Homo sapiens: one gene and its partners. The protein of the gene in region 2 interacts with the protein of the main gene of each other region in a biochemical or structural test. Each region holds a gene or a part of one and is shown on either strand. Other genes may lie near its edges.

Region 1 (8,097 bases), on a different chromosome or scaffold from region 2:
GGGTAGCCCCAGGCCTCCAGGTCTTGCTTCCGCAGAAGGGTGGCCAGGCAGGAAAGGACCTGGAAGAAAGTCAGAGTCCCTCAGTGCCACCAGCCTCGGCCAGGAGGGAAAAGAGCCCAGGTTCTCACTGACTCCAGAAAATCGCATCTGTCTGAGGTCCCCAGGGTGCCTAAACCCCTCTCAGGGAACATCTAAGCATCACCAAATCAGACAGGCTCTGGGAGTCGCCAGATGAGAAACTAAACCCCAGACACTAACCCATCGGAGGACAGAGGTGGAGCCGCTGCTGGCCTGAGCTGACATGATATCCATGAAGGCTTTGGAGGTATCAGAGAACTTCTTAATAAGCACAGGGCTGGGAACACTGTGGGAAAGAACAGAGATGGTCACCCCAGAGGGTCCCTGAAGAGCAGCTGGTGCAGCCCCTCGTGGTACTAAGGAGGACAGGGCAAGGGGCGCTGGTGGCACAGTCACTCAGAAAGTGAGCAACAAAGTCAGAATAGGCACCCACCTTATCAGCCAGCTCAGTGTGCTTTCCACCCGGGATCCCTGCCTCTCTCACCTTCCCACTACCCACTCCTAAACTCAGGACACCAATCCTCTCTCCACCTCCCCTGGCAGTTCACATCTCCAGAAAGCCTGGGGCCAACTACTCCTTCCCTCCCTTCTGCCACTCACTGCTCCAGGAATGCCCCTTCTGGGGGCCAACACTCACACTCCCTGGTATAATGACCCAGTCACCCAGGACCTTATGTTGTAGAATGCCACCTGATATACAAGTATCTTTTAAATTGTATTTTAAAATTTCTGGCCAGGCATGGTGGCTCACGCCTGTAATCCCAGCACTATGGGAGGCCAAGGTGGGCAGATAACCTGAGGTCGGGAGTTTGAGACCAGCCTGACAAACATGGAGAAACCCTGTATCTACTAAAAATACAAAATTAGCTGGGCGTGATGGCGCCCGCCTGTAATCCCAGCTACTTGGGAGGCCAAGGCAGGAGAATCACTTGAACCCGGGAGGTGGAGGGTGTGGTGAGCTGAGATTGCACCATTGCACTCTAGCCTGGGCAACAAGAGCGAAACTCTGTCTCAAAAATAAATAAATAAATAAATAAATTTCTAATTGTGGTAAAATACACATAAGATAAAACATCATTTCGGCCGGACGCAGTGGCTCACGCCTGTAATCCCAGCAGTTTGGGAGGCCGAGGCGGGTGGATCATGAGGTCAGGAGATCGAGACCATCCTGGCTAACACAGTGAAACCCGGTCTCTACTAAAAATACAAACAATTAGCCAGACGTGGTGGCGGGCGCCTGTAGTCCCAGCTACTTGACAGGCTGAGGCACGAGAACGGTGTGAACCCAGGAGGTGGAGTTGCAGTGGGAGGAGGTGGCGCCACTGCACTCCAGCCTGGGCAACAGAGCGAGACTCTGTCTCAAAAAGGAAAAAAACAACACACCATTTCAACGATATTTTTCGGTATATCATTCAGTACTGTTAAGTATATTCATGTTGTGGGTTTTTTTTTTTTCTTTTTTTGGAGACAGGGTCTCACTCGTCACCCAAGCTGGAGTGTAGTGGCACAATTAGGCTCACTGCAACCTCTACCTCCCAAGTAGTTGGGACTACAGGTGCATGCCACCACGCCTAGCTCATTTTTGTATTTTTTTGTAGAGACAAGGTTTTGCCATGTTGCCCAGGCTGGTTTCGAACTCCTGGGCTCAACAGTCCACCTGCCTCAGCCTCCCAAAGTGCTGGGATTATAGGTATGTGTCACCACACCCAGCCAAGTATACTCACATTGTTGTGCAACCAATCTCAAGAACTTTTTCATCTTAAAGAATCAAGGTTTTTTATTTTTTACTTTATTACTTATTTATTTATTGAGATGGAGTCTCACTCTGTTGCCCAGGCTGGACTGCAGTGGCTTGATCTTGGCTCAATGCAACCTCCACATTCTGTGTTCAAGTGATTCTCCTGCCTCAGCCTCCCAAGTAGCTGGGATTACAGGCATGTACCACTACACCTGGCTAATTTTGTATTTTTAGTAGAGATCGGGTTTCACCATGTTGGCCAGGCTGGTCTCCAACTCCTGGCCGCAAGCAATCCTCCTGCCTCAGCCTCCAAAAGTGCTGGGATTACAGGTATGAGCCACTGCGTCCAGCCATGACTTTTAATTTTTATTACTCAAAACAAATTTCATTTTCTTTCTATTTTTTTTTTTTTGAGACGGAGTCTTGCACTGTTGACAGGGCTGTAAGTGCAATGGCATGATCTCAGCTCACTGCTACCTCTGCCTACTGGGTTCAAGCAATTCTCCTGCCTCAGCCTCCCGAGTAGCTGAATTACAGGCACCTGCCACCATGCCCAGCTAATTTTTGTGTTTTTAGTAGGGACGGGGTTTCACCATGTTGGCCAGTTTGGTCTCGAACTCCTGACCTCAGGTGATCTGCCCACCTCAGCCTCCCAAAGTGCTGGGATTACAGGCGATCTGCCCACCTCAGCCTCCCAAAGTGCTGGGATTACAGGCGTGAGCCACAGCATGTAGCCTACCCAGCTAATTTTTATATTTTTAGTAGAGGCGGGGTTTCACCATGTTGGCCAGGATGGTCTCGATCTCCTGACCTCTTGATCTGCCTGCCTCGGCCACCCAAAGTGCTGGGATTATAGGTGTGAACCACCGCACCAGGCCAAAAAAGTTTCATTTTCAATAGAGCTTTCTGACTCTGCTTTTGCCTTCAACACTTTCACAATGATTTTCTGCTCCTCAATAAGGAAAGCACACTTGATTCTGTCATGAACACACTGAGCACACATGGAACCAGGGAAGCACTGCAGGCCCTATAGACATGCCTTTTGTTTTGGACTATCAAATAACAACTTTAGATCTCACAGCACGAGCTCCTGAATGTCTGCCTGGACACACACCACGTGAAGATTTTGGTGCTTTCCCAACCTTCTTGGCATAAAGGTAAATGATTCTATTACCAGGGGTTCAGGACAGCCTAGTTTAGTTAGAGTTTCTCACTAGAGGCCTACGACGGTATGTCACATGCTGGCCCATTCTGCATGCCTCTAGACAATGTTCATGAAGAGCAAGTATCTTTTTAAATAACAATTCCCTGATCCTGTTTCTCCTGTCCACATTCCCTTCTCCCCTCCACAAAAAGCCTTGGGGTTCAAACAGGAGGCAGAACTCACCGCTTCAGGACAAGGTTCAGCAGGTAAGCAACGGCGGCCAGGGACTCCGGGGACTCCACTGCTTCCATTGTTGTCATCTGAGGGCCAGATTGAGGGGGTTTGAATGGATAAAAACTTACACTGAGCAAACAGGAAAGAGAGTGGGGGAACATGTGCCCAGCAGAACAGTTGTGACTGAGAACCACGGTATCAGAGGTTCAGATCCTGACTCTGGCATTGTGTGGTTTTGGGCTAGTAATTTAACCTATCTGTGACTCAGTTTCTTCATTTGTAAAGTAGGGATACTAATGCTACATACCTTATACGTTGTTGTGAGGTTTAATTGAATTAATATATATAAAATACTGCCTGACACATAATTAAAACTATATATATGTGGCTGGGCGTGGTGGCTCACGCCTGTAATCCCAGCACTTTGGGAGGCCGAGGAGGGCAGATCACGAGGTCAGGAGACCGAGACCATCCTGGCTAACACGGTGAAACACCGTCTCTACTAAAAAATACAAAAAATTAGCCAGGCATGGTGGCGGGCGCCTGTAGTCCCAGCTACTCGGGAGGCTGAGGCAGGAGAATGGCGTGAACCCAGGAGGCAGAGCTTGCAATGAGCTGAGATCGTGCCACTGCACTCCAGTCTGGGTGACAGAGTGAGACTCCGTCTCAAAAAAAATAAATAAATAAACTATATATATGTTTATGTGCATATATATACAGAGATAGATAGATAGTTTTTTTGAGAGACAGGGTCTCCCAGGTTGGAGTGCAGTGGTATAATCATAGCTCACTGTAACCTTGAACTTCAAAGCTCAAGAGATCCTCCCACATCAACTTCCCAAGCAGCTAGAACTACAGGCATGCGCCACAAAGCTTGGCTAATTATTTTATTTTTTGTAGAGACAGGGTCCCACTATATTGCACAGGCTGGTGTCGAACTCCTAGCCTCAAGCACTCCTCCGATCTTGGCCTCCCAAAGTCCTAGGATTAAAGGCGTGAGCCACCACACCCAGCCAAACACCATATACTGCCATCTAATTTATTTCATTATTCTAGAGCAGAGGTTGGCAAACTTTTTCTACGAAGGACCAGATAGTAAATATTTTCGGCTTTGCATGCACACTTGGTCTCTGTTGTATGTTCTTTTTGTGTGTGTTTTAACAATTCTTTAAAAATGTAATAACCAGGCTGGGCATGGTGGCTCATGCCTGTAATCCCAGCACTTTGGGAGGCCAAAGTGGGAGAACTGATTCAGCTCAGGAGCTCAAGACAAGCTTGGGCGACATGACGAAACTCTGTCTCTACTAAAAATACAAAAATTAGCTGGGCATGGTGGCAGGCGCCTGTAATTCCAACTACTCAGGAGGCTAAGGCACGATCATCACTTGAACACAGGAGGTGGAGGTTGCAGTGAGCCATGATCACACCACTGCACTCCAGCCTGGGCAACAAAGTGAGACCCTGTCTCCAAAACAAAACAAACAACAACAAAAAAACCCAAAAACAAAATAAAAAGTATATATATACACATATACACACACACACACACATACATACATACACAAATATATTTATTTATTTAATGTAATAAGTAGGCCAGCCATGGTGGCTCACACCTGTAATTCCAGCACTTTGGGAGGCTGAGGTAGGGGGGATCACCTGAGGTTGCGAGTTCGAGACCAGCCGGGCCAACATGGTGAAACCCTGTCTCTACTAAAAATACAAAAATCAGCCAGGTGTGGTGGCGCACGCCTGTAATCCCAGGTACTCAGGAGGCTGAGGCATGAGAATTGCTTGATACCATGAGACAGAGGTTGCAGTGAACTGGGATCGTGCCACTGCAGTCCAACTTGGGCAACGGAGTGAGACTCTGTTTCAAAAAAAAAAAAAAGTAGACCAGGCCTGGTGGCTCAGGCCTATAATCCCAGCACTTTGGGAGGCTGAGGCAGGCAGATCACGAGGTCAGGAGTTCGAGACAAGTCTGGCCAACATAGTAAAACCTCTTCTCTACTAAAAAATACAAAAAATAAGCCGGGTATGGTGGTGTGCACCTGTAATCCCAGCTACTCGGGAGGCTGAGGCAGGAGAATCACATGAACCCAGGAGGCAGAGGTTGCAATAAGTTGAGAACATGCCATTGCACTCCAGCCTGGGCGACAGTGTGAGACTCCGCCTCAAAAAAAAAAAAAAAAAAAGTAATAAGTAGCCAGTTGCAGTGGCTCATGCCTGTAATCCCAACAATTTGGGAGGCCACCGCAAGATGACAAGACGGTTTGAGCCCAGGAATTTGAAACCAGCCTGGACAACATAGTGAGACCCTGTCTCTTTAAAAAAAAGAAACAAAGAAAGAAAGAAAAGAAAAGAGAAAATTAAAAGGTAGCAAATACCACCAGCCTTCCTAAGCCACCTGAGAATAACTGAAGCACTTTCACCTGGTCAAGGTTGTCCTTCTCTACCCCCACATGCCAGGGGCACTCATCTTCTCGCTAAATCTTGCATAACCTGCTGCTCTGAACACCCACCCTCCAGTGGCACCCACTCACCAGAGCAGCGAAGTACTCAGTCTCCGTCTCCTTCCCTCCCTGGGAGCGAATCACCTCAGTGACAGCAGCCAGAACAGCACAGATCTGCACAGGAGGGAGAAAGCACTGTGACTATTTTAGACCTAACCCCACCCCAGGGGAACCTCCTTTCCTTGCTCCTTCACAGATTAATCTCTGGTTAAAGCCCAGAGACAGACAAGACAGGCAACATTCAGGGCCTAGGTCCATACCAGGGGGCCCAGCAAATAACAAGACTCAGAAAATGCTTGCTAAAATTCCACCATGAGGTACTAACCTTCTAGAAATACCTGCATGAGATGAGTGTGCAAATATTTATGTACAAGGATGTTCATGGCAGCAACAAATTGGAATGGTCAAGAAGCCATCAACAGGAGATTAATAATGTACTGTAGTTGTCTCTAATGTACTGCAGTTATCGAGGGGGGGATTGGTTCCAGGACCCCTAAAGATACCAAAATCCGAGGATGCTCAGGTCCCTTATAAAAAATGGTGTAGTATTTGTGTATAACCTATATACATCTTCCCATATACTTTATTTATTTTTTTTGAGATAGAGTCTCACTGTTAGCTAGGCAAGAGTGCAGTGGCATGATCTCAGCTCACTGCAACCTCTGCCTCTGGGTTCAAGCAATTCTCCTGCCTCAGCCTCCCAAGTAGCTGGGATTACAGGTGTGCACCACCATGCCCAGCTAATTTCTGTATTTTTAGTAGAGATGGGGTTTTACCATGTTGACCAAGCTGGTTTTGAACTCCTGGCCTCAAGTGATCTGCCCTCCTTAGCCTCCCAAAGTGCTGAGATTACAGGCATAAGCCACCATGCCTGGCCTCCCATATACTTTAAATCATCTCTAGATTACTGGTAACACCTAACACAATGTAAATGCTATATAAATAGTTGTTATACTGTATTTTTGTTGTTGTTGTTGTTGTTGTTGTTTTTGAGACAGAGTCTCACTCTGTCACCCAGGGTGGAATGCAGTGGCGCACTCTCTGCTAACCGCAGCTTCCACCTCCCGGGTTCAAGCGATTCTCCTGCCTCAGCCTCCTGAGTAGCTGGGATTACAGGCATGTGCCACTACGCTAGGCTAATTTTTTGTACTTTTAGTAGGGATGGAGTTTCACCATGCTGGCCAGGTTGGTTTTGAACTTCTGACCTCAAGTGATCTGCCCGCCTCGGCCTCCCAAAGTGCTAGGATTACAGGCGTGAGCCACCTCGCCTGGTATATTATTATTATTTTAAAAAGATTTTTCAATCCATGCTTGGTTGAATCTGCAGGTGCAGAACCCGCAAATATAGAGACCTGACTGTATCATTATATAATAATGAAAAATTTAAATAGTGCATTATTCAAAAGAATGAGAACAACTATATATTAACTTATAAATATCGTTCAGTAGGGAAAAAGTTGCAGAACAGTGGATAAAAAATAAACTAATCAAGCAGGGCACAATGGCTCACACCAGTAATCCCAACACTTTGGGAGGCTCAGGTGGGCAGATCCCTTGAGCCCAGGAGTTCAAGACCAATCTGGGCAATATGGCAAACCCCATCTCTACAAAAAATACAAAAATTAGCTTGGTATGGTAGCACTCCCCTGTAGTCCCAGCTACTTGGGAATTGGAAGGCTGATCAGCCACTGCACTCTAACCTGGGTGACAAAGTGAGACTCTGTCTGAAAAAAAAGAAAAGAAAAGAAAAGAAACTAATCACATTTTGGTAAACCTAAATAACAAAATTGGGTAAAAAAAAATACGTATATATATATACATATATATATATATATGTATATATATATACGTATTTTTTTTTTTTTTTTTTTTTTTTTTGAGATGGAGTCTCGCTCTGTTGCCCAGGCCGGACTGCGGACTGCAGTGGCGCAATCTCGGCTCACTGCAAGCTCCGCTTCCCGGGTTCACGCCATTCTCCTGCCTCAGCCTCCCGAGTAGCTGGGACTACAGGCGCCCGCCACCGCGCCCGGCTAATTTTTTGTATTTTTAGTAGAGACGGGGTTTCACCTTGTTAGCCAGGATGGTCTCGATCTCCTGACCTCATGATCCACCCGCCTCGGCCTCCCAAAGTGCTGGGATTACAGGCGTGAGCCACCGCGCCCGGCCTTTTTTTTTTTTTTTTTTGAGACAGAGTCTCGTTCTGTCACCCAGGCTGAAGCGCAGTGGTGCGATCTTGGGTCGCTGCAACCTCTGCCTCCAGGGTTCAAGTGATTCTCGTGCCTCAGCTTCCCAAGTAGCTGGGATTACAGGCGCATGCCACCATGCCAGGCTAATTTTTTAGTAGAGATGGGTTTTCACCATGTTGGCCAGGCTGGTCTCAAACTCTTGAC
Region 2 (8,513 bases):
AAGAGGAATCAAAGGCCAAAAAATACAGCAGGAGCCACTCGACTGGATTAGAAATCAAGGAAATGTTGCACCTCATAGACTGGCAAATTTTTAAATGTTTCATAATATCGAGTGTTCGAGGACGGAGGGAGCTGATGGGTGGGTGTGAACTGGCCCAGCCGCCTTGGAGGACAACTGAGGGTTGGGAAAGTCAAGTGGGACATGTGTGTGGTTCCAACTACCCACCCTCCCGCCCACAGGGCATGGGGAGCCACTGTCCACGGCACGGCTGGGGCACAGGCTGTGTGGTGGAGCATAGAGGCGCTACCTGGGCACTGGGGAGGTATGTGGACAAAACAAAGCAAAGCAAGGGATGGAGAGTGACCGGGGGAGGCCTCCAGGAGTGGGAGGGCCCTGCAACGGGAGGAACAGCAAGGACAAACTTTGCAAGCTTGTCCTCATAAAGGCAAGGTGGGGTGGCGCGTGCAGATCCACAGGGGAAATTTCAACACATATTGGGGAAAAAAAGCAAATTGAGGGAAAAAATCCACACATACAGAAAACATGCATTTCTAAAGATCCTAAGGAATCTACAAAATGACTACCAGACCTAATGCATGATATTAGTAAATTCATAGGATACAAGATTAGTATTTTAAAAAACCAATTGTATTTTAACATACTAGCAGAGAGCTGAGAAAAAACTGCATTTATGACAGCATAAAAAACTATAAAATACTTAGCAATAAGCTTATTATAAGATGTAAGATCTCTACACTAAAACTGAATAACATTGATGATGAAATTTAAATGGTGAGATATACTATGTTCATGAATTTGAAGATCTGCTTTGCTAAGATGGTAATTCTGAACTGATCTATAGATTCAATGAAATCCCAATCATAACCCCACTAGGTTTTTGTTGTTGTTTTTAAAGAAATAGACAAGCTAATGATAATTTATATGGAAATGCCAAGGACTTAGAATATCCAAAACAACCTCAAGACAGACGAACCAACAAAAAGGACTTATGTTATCTGACTTCCAGATTAATCCTAAAGCTATGGTAATCAAGACAGTCTGGTTTTTGCTAAGGTACAACAAATAGATCAATGGAACAGAAGACAGCCTAGAAACAGATCCACACTTATGAGACTTTCTGATTTTTCACAAAGGCAACAAAACAATCCAATAAGGAAAGAAAAGTACTTATAACAAATGGTGCTGGAACAGCTGAATATCCATATTAGGGGGAAAAAAGGAACTTAACCACTAACACCACATAGACAAACAATTCAAGATAGAAAAAAAAAACCAATATGAAAGCTCAAACTATAAAGTTTTTAGAAGAAAACAGGAATAATATCTTCATGACTTGGGATTAGGCAAAGTTTTCTTAAATAGGACACACACACATACATATACACACACACAATAACTAATATAAATTAAACTTCTCAAAATTAAACTCTCGTTTATTTAAAAAAAAAAAAAAAGTTCTCACGCCTGTAATCCGAGCACTTTGGGAGGCCAAGGCGGGCGGATCACGAGGTCAAGAGATCGAGACCATCCTGCTAACACGGTGAAACCCCATCTCTACTAAAAATACAAAAAAATTAGCCGGGCACGGTGGCGGGTGCCTGTAGTCCCGGCTACTCAGAAGGCTGAGGCAGAAGAATCGCTTGAACCCAGGAGGTGTTGCTTGCAGTGAGCCAAGATCGCACCACTGCACTCCAGCCTGGCGACAGAGCAAGACTCTATCTCAAAAAAAAAAAAAAAGAAAGAAAATGAACAGGCAAGTCACAGTCTGGGAAAAACATCTGTAAAACACATATCCAACCAAAGACTGGACTCTAGGACAAAGAACTCTTAGAGCTCAATAATAAAAAGACAAAAAGCCTCATGAAAAATGAATTTCACTGACGCTGAAACACAAATGGACAGTAAGCACATGTAAATGCTCTTTTGGTGGCAACGGAAATGAGTACCACCGTGAGATACCATTTCATGATTACCAGACGGCCGAGGCTGAGGAGACGGCAGGCCATGTGTTGGCAAAGCTGAGGGCCAGGAGAACTCTCACAGGCTCTGGTGGGAGTGTGAGTGTACAACCACTCTAGAAAAGCGTCTGGCAGCTGCTTATAAAACTAAACATACACCTACCCTATGACCCAGCATTCCATTCCTCAGCACTTACCCAAGAGAAACGAAAACATGTCCACAAAAAGACTTGTAAAGAATGTTCAGAGCAGCCTTATTCACAGTAGCTAAAAATGGAAAAAAGCCCAGGTGCCCATCAGCAGGAAAGTGAGTAACAAATGGTGTATTCATACAATGAAATACTTCTCAGCAATCAAAAGGCATGGACTGCTGCTACATGCAGCCTGGATGGGTTTCAAAACCATTACGCTGAGCAAAAGCAGCCAGATGCAGAAAGAGTGCATCCTACATGATTCCATTTATACAGAGTCTAAGGCAAGAAAAGCTCAACTGTGGACGACAAAGGGTGACACAGCAGTTGTTACCTCTGGGGCCAGTGGGAGAGGTAATTGACTGGGGGGGTGCGTGACTGTCGGGGAATGGTGGTGATGGTCCATAACCTGAACAGGATTTCAGCTGCACAGGTGTCTACAACATTTGTCAGCAATCATTGAATGGCACACTTTAGATTTGCATTTCATTTTATGTAAATACAATCTTCAAAAGAAAAAGAAAAAAAAAGAACCATGAACTCTAGCAGAATTATTTGGGGTGGAGTGTACTGATGTCTGCCATTTACTTTGAAACGCATTTTTAAAAACCCATGTTGGTAGATGGACAGAAACTGCTAGATGAACGGTTATGTAATAAAGATTGTAAAATCTGTGTGGTGGGTACAGGGTATTCCCTATAAAATTCTTCCCACTTTCCTAAATAAAATTTTTCATAATAAAATACAAAGTAAAAGTAACTTGGGAAATGTAGCTAAAGCTGTATTTAGAGATAACTTACAGCCTTTCACTCCTGAACAAAACATATACAAACAGATAAGCAGAGTAACTGAAACCCAAAGAAAGCTAAAACGGGAGTGATCAAAATAAAAACAAATAATTTTGAAGACAAAAGAGTAGAATTGGTTATTAAATACATTAATTATTAAATGGAAGAGACAAAACTTCTTAATTTAATCAGAAATGAAGGTGGAGATACAAATAAAGAACGATAAAGAAAACAGAATATTTAATAAGAAGGCAACTAACATATGAAGATTGAGATCTGACTAAATTTGATCATTAACATTATTTAGAGACAAGGACCCACTCTGTCACCCAGGCTGGAGTGCACTAGTGCAATTACGGTTCACTGCAGCCTCAAACTCCTGGGTTGAAGCGATCTTCCTACCTCAGCCTCCTAAGTCGCTAGGACTAGAGGCTCAGAGGCATACACCACCTAATCTGACTAATTTTTACATTTTTTGTAGAGACAAGGTCTCGCTATATTGCCCAGGCTAGTCTGAAACTCCTGGGCGTAGGTGATCCTTCCATCTCAACCTTCCAAAGTGCTGGGATTACAGGCATGAGACACCATCCTCAGACAAATTCGATCATTTTATGAGTGGCCAAAATTGACTCAAGTTGTGAAAAAACAAAAAAAAAGGACCAAGTGCCATGGAATAAAATTTACACATCATCAAAGAATTACAGCCTAGAAAATCAGGGTCCAAATGGCCACAGTCCAGTAGCCCGTCCAAATCCACTTTCACAGCTATGCTAGGAACTGTGAAAAAGAAAATGGAGGAATGAATCATTTCCCTAAGAAATATCCAAAAAGGGATAGAAACCATAAAACTAATAATCACAAAAGAAACTGACAAAGTTTTCTAGGTCCTACCTCTGAAAAACATACATTTTCTTTAAAACCTCCAAGGAAAAAATAAAGCAGATAACATAAAAAAGAAAATATTCCAAATTAATTTCACAAAGTCAGCAGAATCACACTAAAAAGATAACCGAAAAATACAAAATAATTTTGACGAGAAACAATCTTAGAAAAACACTGGCAAATATCCAGCATCACGAAAAATAAGGAGATACTCCAAAACAACCTGAGTGGGAAGTGTGGCTTTCAGCCTGCGGAGACGTGCAGCTGGGAGCACGTGGCAAGGCTGACCTCAGAAAAGAGGGAGCCACAGGCCTGAAAGGGTCTGGGGACACCAGGGGCCCTGCCCACACCCACGCCGCTATGCGCAGACACTGTTTTCACCGCGGGCAAGGCCTGGAAGGATTTCACATACCACTGCAGGCACTTCTGAACCATAAAAACTCCACGAGCACAGGTTACTTCCACAATAAAAAATTTCACGGTGGGGAACAAAAATAGGTAATTTTTACAAACAAGGAGCCGAGAGCAGCAGCTTCCCAAGGCCGTCCTCCAAAGGGAGGCAGCCCAGCTCTGCAGGTGCCCACACGGACGGGGTGGCAGTGCCATCCACAACAGGCCAGACCAGCTTGGCCATGCTGCCAAGTCTTCATGGCCAACCTCTCTGTGCCTCCACTGTCCTTCGGCCCCCACAGCAGCCTCTGAAGTGTCTTGGGTGATCCCCTTGGGCACTCCTCGGGGAGTGTGGCTGATGTAGAAGGCCAGATGTGAGGCTGTAGGAATAGGAGGGCCCACGGGATGGGACTTGGGCCGGCAGCTGCCTCAAGACGCAGGCATGGACTTACTCTGCAACCATTGCTCACGCCTCAGCTTCATTTTCTCCTTCTTGGGCAAAACGGTCTTGGCCTCTGCACCTGAGGAAAGAGAACACGGGAGTGAGCAAAACGTGTCCAGGTGGCACTCCCATGACCTGAGAATGGGCTGGGGCGGGTCCTGACTGCAGAGCTGCCACAGTCACTGCAACTGGTCTGGCCTGTGCCAGCCTCTCAGACTCCCGGCTCTGGACAGCACCAGGGGCACCTGCAGCATGCCTCGGCCCGGCCTCAGGAGGCTCTCTCAGCAGCGTCCCCCCGCAGTGATGGCCTGGCCACTCACCCCAGCCTGCCCCGGAAAGCAGGTGTCCCAACAAGGAGGCCTCCTCCCCACTCATGCCCCGAATGACTGTCAGGGCAGTCATTGCAGTGAAGCCATGCAGGAATGCCCGACGGCTCATGAAGGGGGCCACGAACAGGACAGAGGCCCTTAGGGGGACATCCCCAAGATCCTGTGTGGTCACGTCAGGCCCAGCGACGTACGTGCTCCCTGCCCCCTGCCAGGCCCGACAATGTGCTCGGTGACCAGAGGCTTCATCCCTGGACCCCACAAAGCGGCCCTCTCAGGGAGCCTCCAAAAGTGAACTCCACAGGTGCCCCTGTGCTTGGTCCACGCGGAGCCCAGCCACCTGCCCGGTGGGCGGGGAAAGGAGGCTCATTTGCTGGGGGGACAGGGGCAGGGGTGGGATGAGCCTGCAGGGCCGTGCAGGTGGGGACAGGTGGAGAGGGCACTGGGTGCTGCGTCTCTGACTCCAGTTTGCTCTGAAACAGAGTGGACTCAAGGGCACCCCCATTTCCTCGGCCTTAACTGATTTCCCGAGACGGTTCAGCCTCGGCTGCATTCTCCCCAGAACACATCTCCCAGTATCTCTTTTAATTCATGCAGACCTTCCTGGCTTGTCCAACAAATCCACCATGTCTAATGAAAAACAAAGCAGAAGCAAGCCCTGCCTGGAGAAAGGCAGTCGCTGCGCTCTGCATTTCAGACTTCACTTCAGGAGCCGGTGTGAAACCTCCAAGGCCCAGGGCTCCCGCAGGATTTAATCCCCTCCCACAGCTTCCTGGTGTGCCTGGGTTGACCTACTTTCCTCCATAGCATCCCAACCTCTCCCTCCCGACCACAAAGGGGAGGGGCTGATTTTGCAGCTTTTCTGTAGTTTTGAAATTGTTTCAAAAGAAAAATGAATCTAAGACCAGTGGAAACTGACCCGAACAGTGACCTGTGTTGTGTTGGAATGAAGAAAACGAGGCCTGGGCGCAGGCCAGGTCAGGAACACAGCACAGTGATCCTTCCCGGCTCTGGCCCCAGGGAGCTCCCCAGCCCCATTGCCATGGCACCAGGACAACAGGAACCAAACACGCTGCTCCTGCAGGAGGAGAGGGCTTGGAATGCTGCAGCTGGAGCAGAGGCCGCCTGGAACTGCTGGCGGCGGCCCCACGACCCCCAGCTCCCGCCGCTTTCCGGGCCCAAGGCGCCCTTGCTGAAGTGCTCCGGCACAGGTTCACGCCTGCTCCCCCTTCTAGCCTCTGGATGGGCTGACGGGTGTTCACTGAGATCCAGTCGGTGCCGCGGGCTACGGAGGGGGCTCGCCCTGTGGGTCCTGATTCCCTCTCCCCCGCAGGCCCAAGGCCACATGGACAGGGCAGGTGGGCGCACCCCACCCTGTGGTGGGGACAGTGTGAAGTCCGCTCGAGCTGCTCCGGTTTCTAAACTTACCTACGACAAGGCCAGCACACCACAGCTCTCGCCGGTGCTGCGGAAGCACAGGAGCGTCCCGTGGGTGCAGCAGAAATGCCAGCTTGGAGGAGGGCCGGGCTGGGAGTGCAGATGCTGGGCCTCAAGCAAGGGTGTCGGGAGCTGCTACTGTCCTGGGCCTCGCCCCAAACCCAGATCCCAGCAGCACCAGCACTACAGCCCCAGTGGCTATGGGGAGGGGAAGGTCACCAAACACGTCTGATTAGTGACAAAGTGACGGCAGCAGGGGCCACACCTGAGGCAGGTCATCCGCCGAGCCCGAGCTCCTCACACAGGGCCTGAAGTCCGAGTGGGCACCAGGAATACCAAGCCAGAGCTGACAGTAAAAACGACTTCATACAATCGCCGGCCAGCCGAGCTGAGGCTACAGAAGGGTGCACACTCAGAAGGGCAGAGGCGGCTGCGACCTCGGCTTCCCGCTCTAGGCAGACAGGCTTCTTCCTCTGTGCCCTGTCTGCTTCACATCCTAGGCCACCTGCTGCACGGGCGGCTCACACACTGCCACTCCTTCTGGCCCGCTCAGTCCACAGCTCAAAGGTGTCAGGAGACGGGCAAGTCCCCATTAAACTGAACCTCACAGAACCCCAGCCAGTGGCTGAGGCAAGGCTAGACGAGGTGCTCATACCCTCATTCCCCACAAAACCGAGACAGGACCCCCCCAAGACAGAGCCCAGGCCTCCCTGTGGGGGAACATGCTGCAGGTGCCATCCACTCCCCCTCACACTCGGTGGAACCCTCTGGGGCCACCTGTTGCTACTGGCAGTGAACAAGCCCAAAGGGTGAAAGACAAGGCCGCAGGGCATGAGGTGGCTCCTGCGATCTGGGTCCTGGGACCCGGTGGTATCCAGGGTGCTCCTGGCTGCCACAGCGCCTGTATCTGAGCTGGACTGCAAGGCACAGGGCAGATGGATGGTGGAGATGAAGAGGAGGAGGATGAGGAGAAGCCGTGCCCTTGCCTGAGTCTTCAGGAGCCCAGGATGCAGCTGCCACGGAGCGATCTGCATAGAGGCACCGGGCTCACGAGCAGCGTGTGGGGACTGACCGTGTGGGACAGCCCCTCTGGCCCAGTGGGAGGCACTCTGAGGAGGACTCAAGGGCCGTTCAAGGAACAGCCCCTCTAACCCTTGACTCTGGAAGACCCCGCCTCAGCCCTGCCCTTGGGGAGTGACTAGAAACCTGCCCTGAGCTGACTCATCACAGAGCTCTGGGGGTGGCTCTGGTCCCTGGAACGCCGGCCGGCCCGGCAAAAACCTGCAGCATGAGCTGAATGGCCCCGCACAGAGAGAGGGATGGGTGCACGCAGGTACAGGCTGCCTAAAAACCCTGACAAGAAAAGGGAAGGTGAGACGCTGCCGCGCAGGAGCCAGGGCCCGTGCTCTGGAGCTGCAATTCCAGGTACACTGGGCAAGGCAACCGCCTCGCCAGAACCACAGCCTTCCCAGCTGCCACGGTGCTGCCTGGGCTCTTGCGCTCTAACAAAGGGGCCCCGGGAACAGACGCGGTAAACCAGCCTCAGTGGAGGAAGCCACACATGGCAGCTACACAGCACGCCTGTGCCGCAGGCAACTCACCTGGTCCCCAGCCCTCACCAGGTCAGCAGACACAGAACCAGGCTCACCAGAGTTGGGCCGTGGGGTGACACGGTTCACGGGGCACGTGTTCTGATGGACCCTAAGGAAAATCAGCATGAGACCGGCTTTTCCGTGCACGCCATCAACAAGCCTTGATTCTCACTCCACAAAGATCTGCATGAGGCTCAGGACAGAACACACTACGCGATGCTGCTGGCACGTGCTGCTTCATCTCGGGCTCGGGTGCCGGGAGATGCTGCGGCCTACAGAGCCACTCAGATGCTGCCAACACCACCCAGGTCACCAGCTGAAGCGGCACATGCCAGCAGCATCTCGTGGTGCCGAGGTTCTTCTCGCCACGCCTTCTGGGTGAATGCAAGCTGAAATGCATCGTGGGACAGGCCGTTTGGGGAAAAATGAAGTGGGAATCATCCGTCTCACTCTATACACAAAAATAAAGTCCTGATGGATTAAATA
Region 3 (5,072 bases), on a different chromosome or scaffold from region 2:
AAAAGAAAAAGTATCTTCAAAAATGTTCTGACGTAATCTGTGCTGCCTAGCATTTTGTTCTCCAAGCTGAGTGGAATAATGCCTTTCATTTACATGTTAAATGGAAGCCTATTTTTAGGCTAAATGTAAGTCTTAAAGTACTGAGCAGAAATATCTTCCACATCCTATTGTTGCATTAAATCCCTACTGATATTTTAATGGTAATTGTGATAGTACCTGAATAACTATTGTGTAAGAATAAAGTTAATGTAAAAAAATTTTTAAGTGTGTAGTCTTACTGAGTACATTTGCTTTTCATGGTATCTTTTCTCTGTTTATATTCAAGTTTTATGAGCAATATGATGATGATGAAATTGGAGCTCTGGATAATGCAGAATTGGAAGGTTCTATTCAAGTGGACAGCAATCGCTTACAGGAAGTTTTGAATGACTACTATAAAGAGAAGGCAGAGAAGTATAGTGACTTTTCCTTCCTTGTTTAGCTGTTCTTTTTTTTAAAAAAGAAAAAATTCCAAAGAAAGGTCTATAGTATAACTGAATTGAGGAAAAAATTAACCTAGTCAAAATACATATTGAGAAAATGAAAAAGGAAAAAAGAAAAGGGGAAAAAAAAAGATAGGGCGGAAAAAAGAAAGTGGTACATTTTCCATAAACTTGGGTCATGTATAGCTCATTGTTTTGCCTACATTTTGGTGTTAAATGTTCTGAAGTAGAACGTAATGGGAATATACGAGGAGCCACTTTCTCCGTATCTTTGACTGGAGAAGAGTCATGGTAGAATGTGTATTCGTTTATTAAATTTTTTTTTTTTTTTGAGACGGAGTCTTGCTCTGTTGCCCAGGCTGGAATGCAGTGGTGCGATCTCAGCTCACCTGCAACCTCCGCCTCCCAGGTTCAGGTGATTCTCCTGCCTCAGCCTCCTGAGCAGATGTGATTACAGGTGCACACCACCATGCCCAGCTAATTTTTGTATTTTTAGTAGAGATGGGGTTCCACCATGTTGGCCAGGCTGGTCTCAAACTCTTGACCTCATGTAATATGCCTGCCTCGGTCTCCCAAAGTGCTGGGATTATAGGTCTGAGCCACTGTGCCTGGCCAATTTTTAATTTTTTTTTAACTTTTATTTATTTTGCTTAAAAGTTTTGTTTTGATAGAAGCATGAATATTATTAGGGTGTGAAATATAAGGACAGGCTGGGCGTGGTGGTGTACACCTGTAATCCCAGCTGTTTGGGAGGCTGAGACAGGATCACTTGAACCTGGAAGGCAGAGGTTGCAGTGAGCTGAGATAGCACCACTGCTTCCAGCCTGGGTGACAGGGCGAGACTCTGTCTCAAAAAAAAAAAAAGAAATAAAGGGACACATTCCCCTTGGAAAATAAGATCGTGTTTCTAGTCTTTTGGGCTGAAGAATTATTCCAAGCATACGCTTTTTTCATCTTTCTGAAATGCCAGGTGTTCTGAGAAGTAGGTATTTACATCTCGTGGAAAGACAAGAATTTGTCTCTCCAGCTGGATTAGCGGAACTGACCAGCCAGTTATTTTGGCAAATCAGCATCCACATCAAGGTGACTCTTCTCTGAGAGAAACTGATGAAGTGTTCAAATCAGCTAGAAAGGTCTGATGTTCCATGATCACTATAATATATAGATCCCATAGCAGAAAAAGAAGCTATATAGTTGAGTGAAATATTCGAATACTTTGCAGAGACAGATGAGTTATGCTTTTTTAGGCTTTAAAAACCTGTTTTCTTAGGAAGCTGCCTTGGAAAGACACAGCTAGATGTTACCTTCCTATCAGCCGAGTGAATGTCCAAAACTCACTGGAGGGAAGAGGCAGGGCTGGGTAGAACAGAGTTTGACAGAAAATAACGGATGGGTCACTGGAATATGTGCATTTAAAACATTGGTTTTTCCACAGCTAAAAATTGCAGTTTTAGTGACATAGTATAATAATAGGTCATTTTTCCCCCTCTTGGTCTTCACTTTTAAAAACTCGTCTAAAAGTTGTGTAAAATTGAATACCCTTGAACCCTTGGAGGATCAAGACCTGCCAATGAATGAGCTTGATGAGTCTGAGGAGGAAGAAATGATTACTGTAGTCCTTGAAGAAGCCAAAGAGAAGTGGGATTGTGAATCTATTTGTAGTAAGTATATTCACTTTATGATAGTAATTTTAAAGTATTAAAGTATATCAACTTTAGGCTGGGTGCGGTGCCTCACGCCTGTAGTAATCCCAGCACTTTGGGAGGCCGAGGCGGGTGGGTCACCTGATGTCAGGAGTTCAAGACCAGCCTGGCCAACATGGTGAAACCCCGTGTCTACTAAAAAATACAAAAATTAGCCAGGTATGGTGGCAGGCAACTGTAATCCCAGCTGCTCGAGAGGCTGAGGCAGGAGAATAGCTTGAACCTGGGAGGCAGAGGTTGCAATGAGCCGAGATCATGCCATTGCACTCCAACCTGGGCAACAAGAGCAAAACTCTGTCTAAAAAAAAACATATATCAACTTTGAAAAAATACATATATTTTAATAAGAGTTAGGCTTTTAGGAAATTTGTGAAAAATTATTTGGAAAGAGTAATATTCCAATACTGAGTTGTAAGCAATTTATAAAACATTGATCAGAGACTCCAGTGTTATTTTGCACTATGAAAACACAAGGTCAGAAATATAGTAGGAATTCAGTAATGCTTTGTGGAACTGAAAACATGCTTACTGATACATGACTTTTATTTGTTTGTTTAGGTACATACTCAAATTTATATAACCATCCACAGCTTATCAAGTATCAACCAAAGGTAAGTCCTAGTGTGCTGAGCTATTTGAAGGATGCAGTGCATAAAAAATAGAGTGCACATTTTCGCACAATAACTTTTTATCTTTATGGCTAGAGTGATATTAGAAAAAGCATCAACAGTATGTCATTAATGAGCTATTTTTTAATAGGAATGAGAAGTAACTCTAGTACCATTTTATCTGTATTTCAGCCCAAACAAATTCGAATATCTTCTAAAACAGGAATACCTCTCAATGTCTTACCAAAGAAAGGACTCACAGCAAAGCAAACTGAAAGAATACAGATGATTAATGGCAGTGATCTTCCTAAAGTATCAACTCAGCCACGTTCTAAAAATGAAAGCAAAGAAGATAAAAGAGCAAGAAAGCAAGCTATAAAAGAAGAGCGCAAGGTAAAATATATTTTTCAAATGTGAGATTTACAAAGAGCTGGTGGAGGGGAAATTAGGGGAATTTTGTAAAAGCAGTCTGTATCAGTTTAAAGATGTGAATAATACAAGTATATTCTTGTACTTATAACAGGAACGAAGAGTGGAGAAGAAAGCTAACAAATTAGCATTTAAACTGGAGAAAAGAAGGCAAGAAAAAGAGCTGCTGAACTTGAAGAAGAATGTTGAGGGTCTAAAGCTATAGACAGTGGAGCATACAGGGCAAGGCACTTTATTAGGGGCTCCTCATCTTTGGTTATTGACTAGAAACTTCAGAAAGACAAAACTGTTTGCCATTTTTACTGGCAGATAAGAGGAAAATACAATATTTGTATTATTTTTATACTAGTAAGTGTCCCCTGCCAACCATCTTGTAAATATTGTAATACTTTAATTTTTAATATTATAAGCTTACATTTGCTCTGAAGTAAATGACTTCATGAATGTGAAATGTTTGATAAATTAAAGGAAAATATCTTCATAACGTGAATGGAATTGGTGTATTCATTTATTTGTATGGTTGTCATAGTTGTTTTTTGCAGATGTTTTCAAATATTTCTTTGAATCCTCTCCACGCCTTTTCAGGAATTACATGGTTTAATTTGCTGTAAATAGAAAAGTGGCCTGGTTAAACTCAATTTTGAAATGCTGACTTTATTCTGTTTAGTGTAAGATGAGTTTTTCTGAGAAGGTTCCACTGTTAGGAAGCTAAGTTTTCCCTTGCTGTATACAAAGGACTGTTTCAAAAGTGTGGCAAAACTGAATATTAAGGTTCTTAAGATTCATATTTCCTGTTATATTACTGGATGACTTGCTTTTGGGATTTAGGAACAGTGAAGGCAGGAAACAGAATAGTCAAGGAAATAAGAAAACTTATTTGGCTTCAGTGAGTCCCTAGTTCAAAATCAGAAATATTTATTTCAGTTTAAACTGGGGAGTTTGTCTTTTCAACATCAGTTAATGCTTGGAACCATTCATACTTGATTAAAATACATCGTTGAAAACTTTCCCTGTTTTTGATGAGTTGATTTTTGTTTTAACTGATTTAAACTTTTTCAAGGTTTAGGCAATGACATCATCACAATTGTTGATTATTTGGTAAACTATGACTTCTTGCAACAGATTAGTGGTCCTGGTTTATGTTCTTGACTAGTATGATGTTATCTGGACTGGGCTGTAAAAATCTGTGAACACTGTTGCTCTGAGTTAGGAACAGAATGGCTGGGGCAGAACCATTTTTGGCAGGTGAGCTGCACTTGATATCTAAATTATTAGAAAATGCCTTCATCTGTAATCATTCATTTATGGCTTTTCCAAAGCTGGTAGGTATTAGCTTGTTCTACCATGTGTGATCCGTTTAAATCTAAGTATTGTAGGATTTTTAAAGAGTTGTCAAAACTGATGGCATTAGGTATTCTACCAACATTGGCTAGAAAAAAATCTTGACTGAAGAGCTTGTCATTGCAGAAGTAGGATACTGGAGAGAATGTATTTAAATGCCAACCTGTGAAGTAAAGGGTCAGATGATGGTTTATGTCAATATTGAGAATGTAAGTACTAAAAGGATTGGCCATTTATTTTGATAGCTGTCTCAACTGAAGATTCTCAAAAACAGCAAGAGTCTTAATAGGCATTGGATGTTTCTTTGTCATGTTACTCAAATTCTGTGTTATGAGGTGCTAACTTCACTGTGTTTAAATCCATATATTATATATTTTGCAATTAAGAGAAAAAGACTAGGCCATGAGTCTTGATGAAGCATATTGTGATTTAGGCAGGTTATACTCCAAACTTAAATATTTTAATTTTATTCTGAAGAACAAATTCATGATACTTTAAATGAATTTTCT

Evidence for each region. Proteins that work in one complex are often made in the same cells at the same time.
Region 1: the proteins of SLX9 (region 2) and RRP12 are reported together in a solved structure, tested with the Homo sapiens proteins (one study listed by BioGRID).
Region 3: the proteins of SLX9 (region 2) and LTV1 are reported together in a solved structure, tested with the Homo sapiens proteins (one study listed by BioGRID).

What each region holds. Positions count from the first base shown.
Region 1 is NC_000010.11:97,390,481-97,398,577, forward strand, and holds part of RRP12 (RRP12-like protein), read right to left. Parts: intron 5,822-8,097; coding exon 5,738-5,821; intron 3,281-5,737; coding exon 3,204-3,280; intron 365-3,203; coding exon 259-364; intron 60-258; coding exon 1-59.
Region 2 is NC_000021.9:44,956,338-44,964,850, reverse strand, and holds part of SLX9 (ribosome biogenesis protein SLX9 homolog), read right to left. Parts: intron 6,154-8,513; exon of another isoform or gene 5,918-6,153; intron 4,752-5,917; coding exon 4,683-4,751; intron 1-4,682. UniProt on the Homo sapiens protein: May be involved in ribosome biogenesis.
Region 3 is NC_000006.12:143,860,101-143,865,172, forward strand, and holds the end of LTV1 (protein LTV1 homolog), read left to right. Parts: intron 1-325; coding exon 326-453; intron 454-2,003; coding exon 2,004-2,143; intron 2,144-2,743; coding exon 2,744-2,796; intron 2,797-2,985; coding exon 2,986-3,186; intron 3,187-3,316; coding exon 3,317-3,427; 3' UTR 3,428-3,712; downstream 3,713-5,072. Other genes in the region: ZC2HC1B (zinc finger C2HC domain-containing protein 1B), read left to right, coding at 4,440-4,467. UniProt on the Homo sapiens protein: Essential for ribosome biogenesis.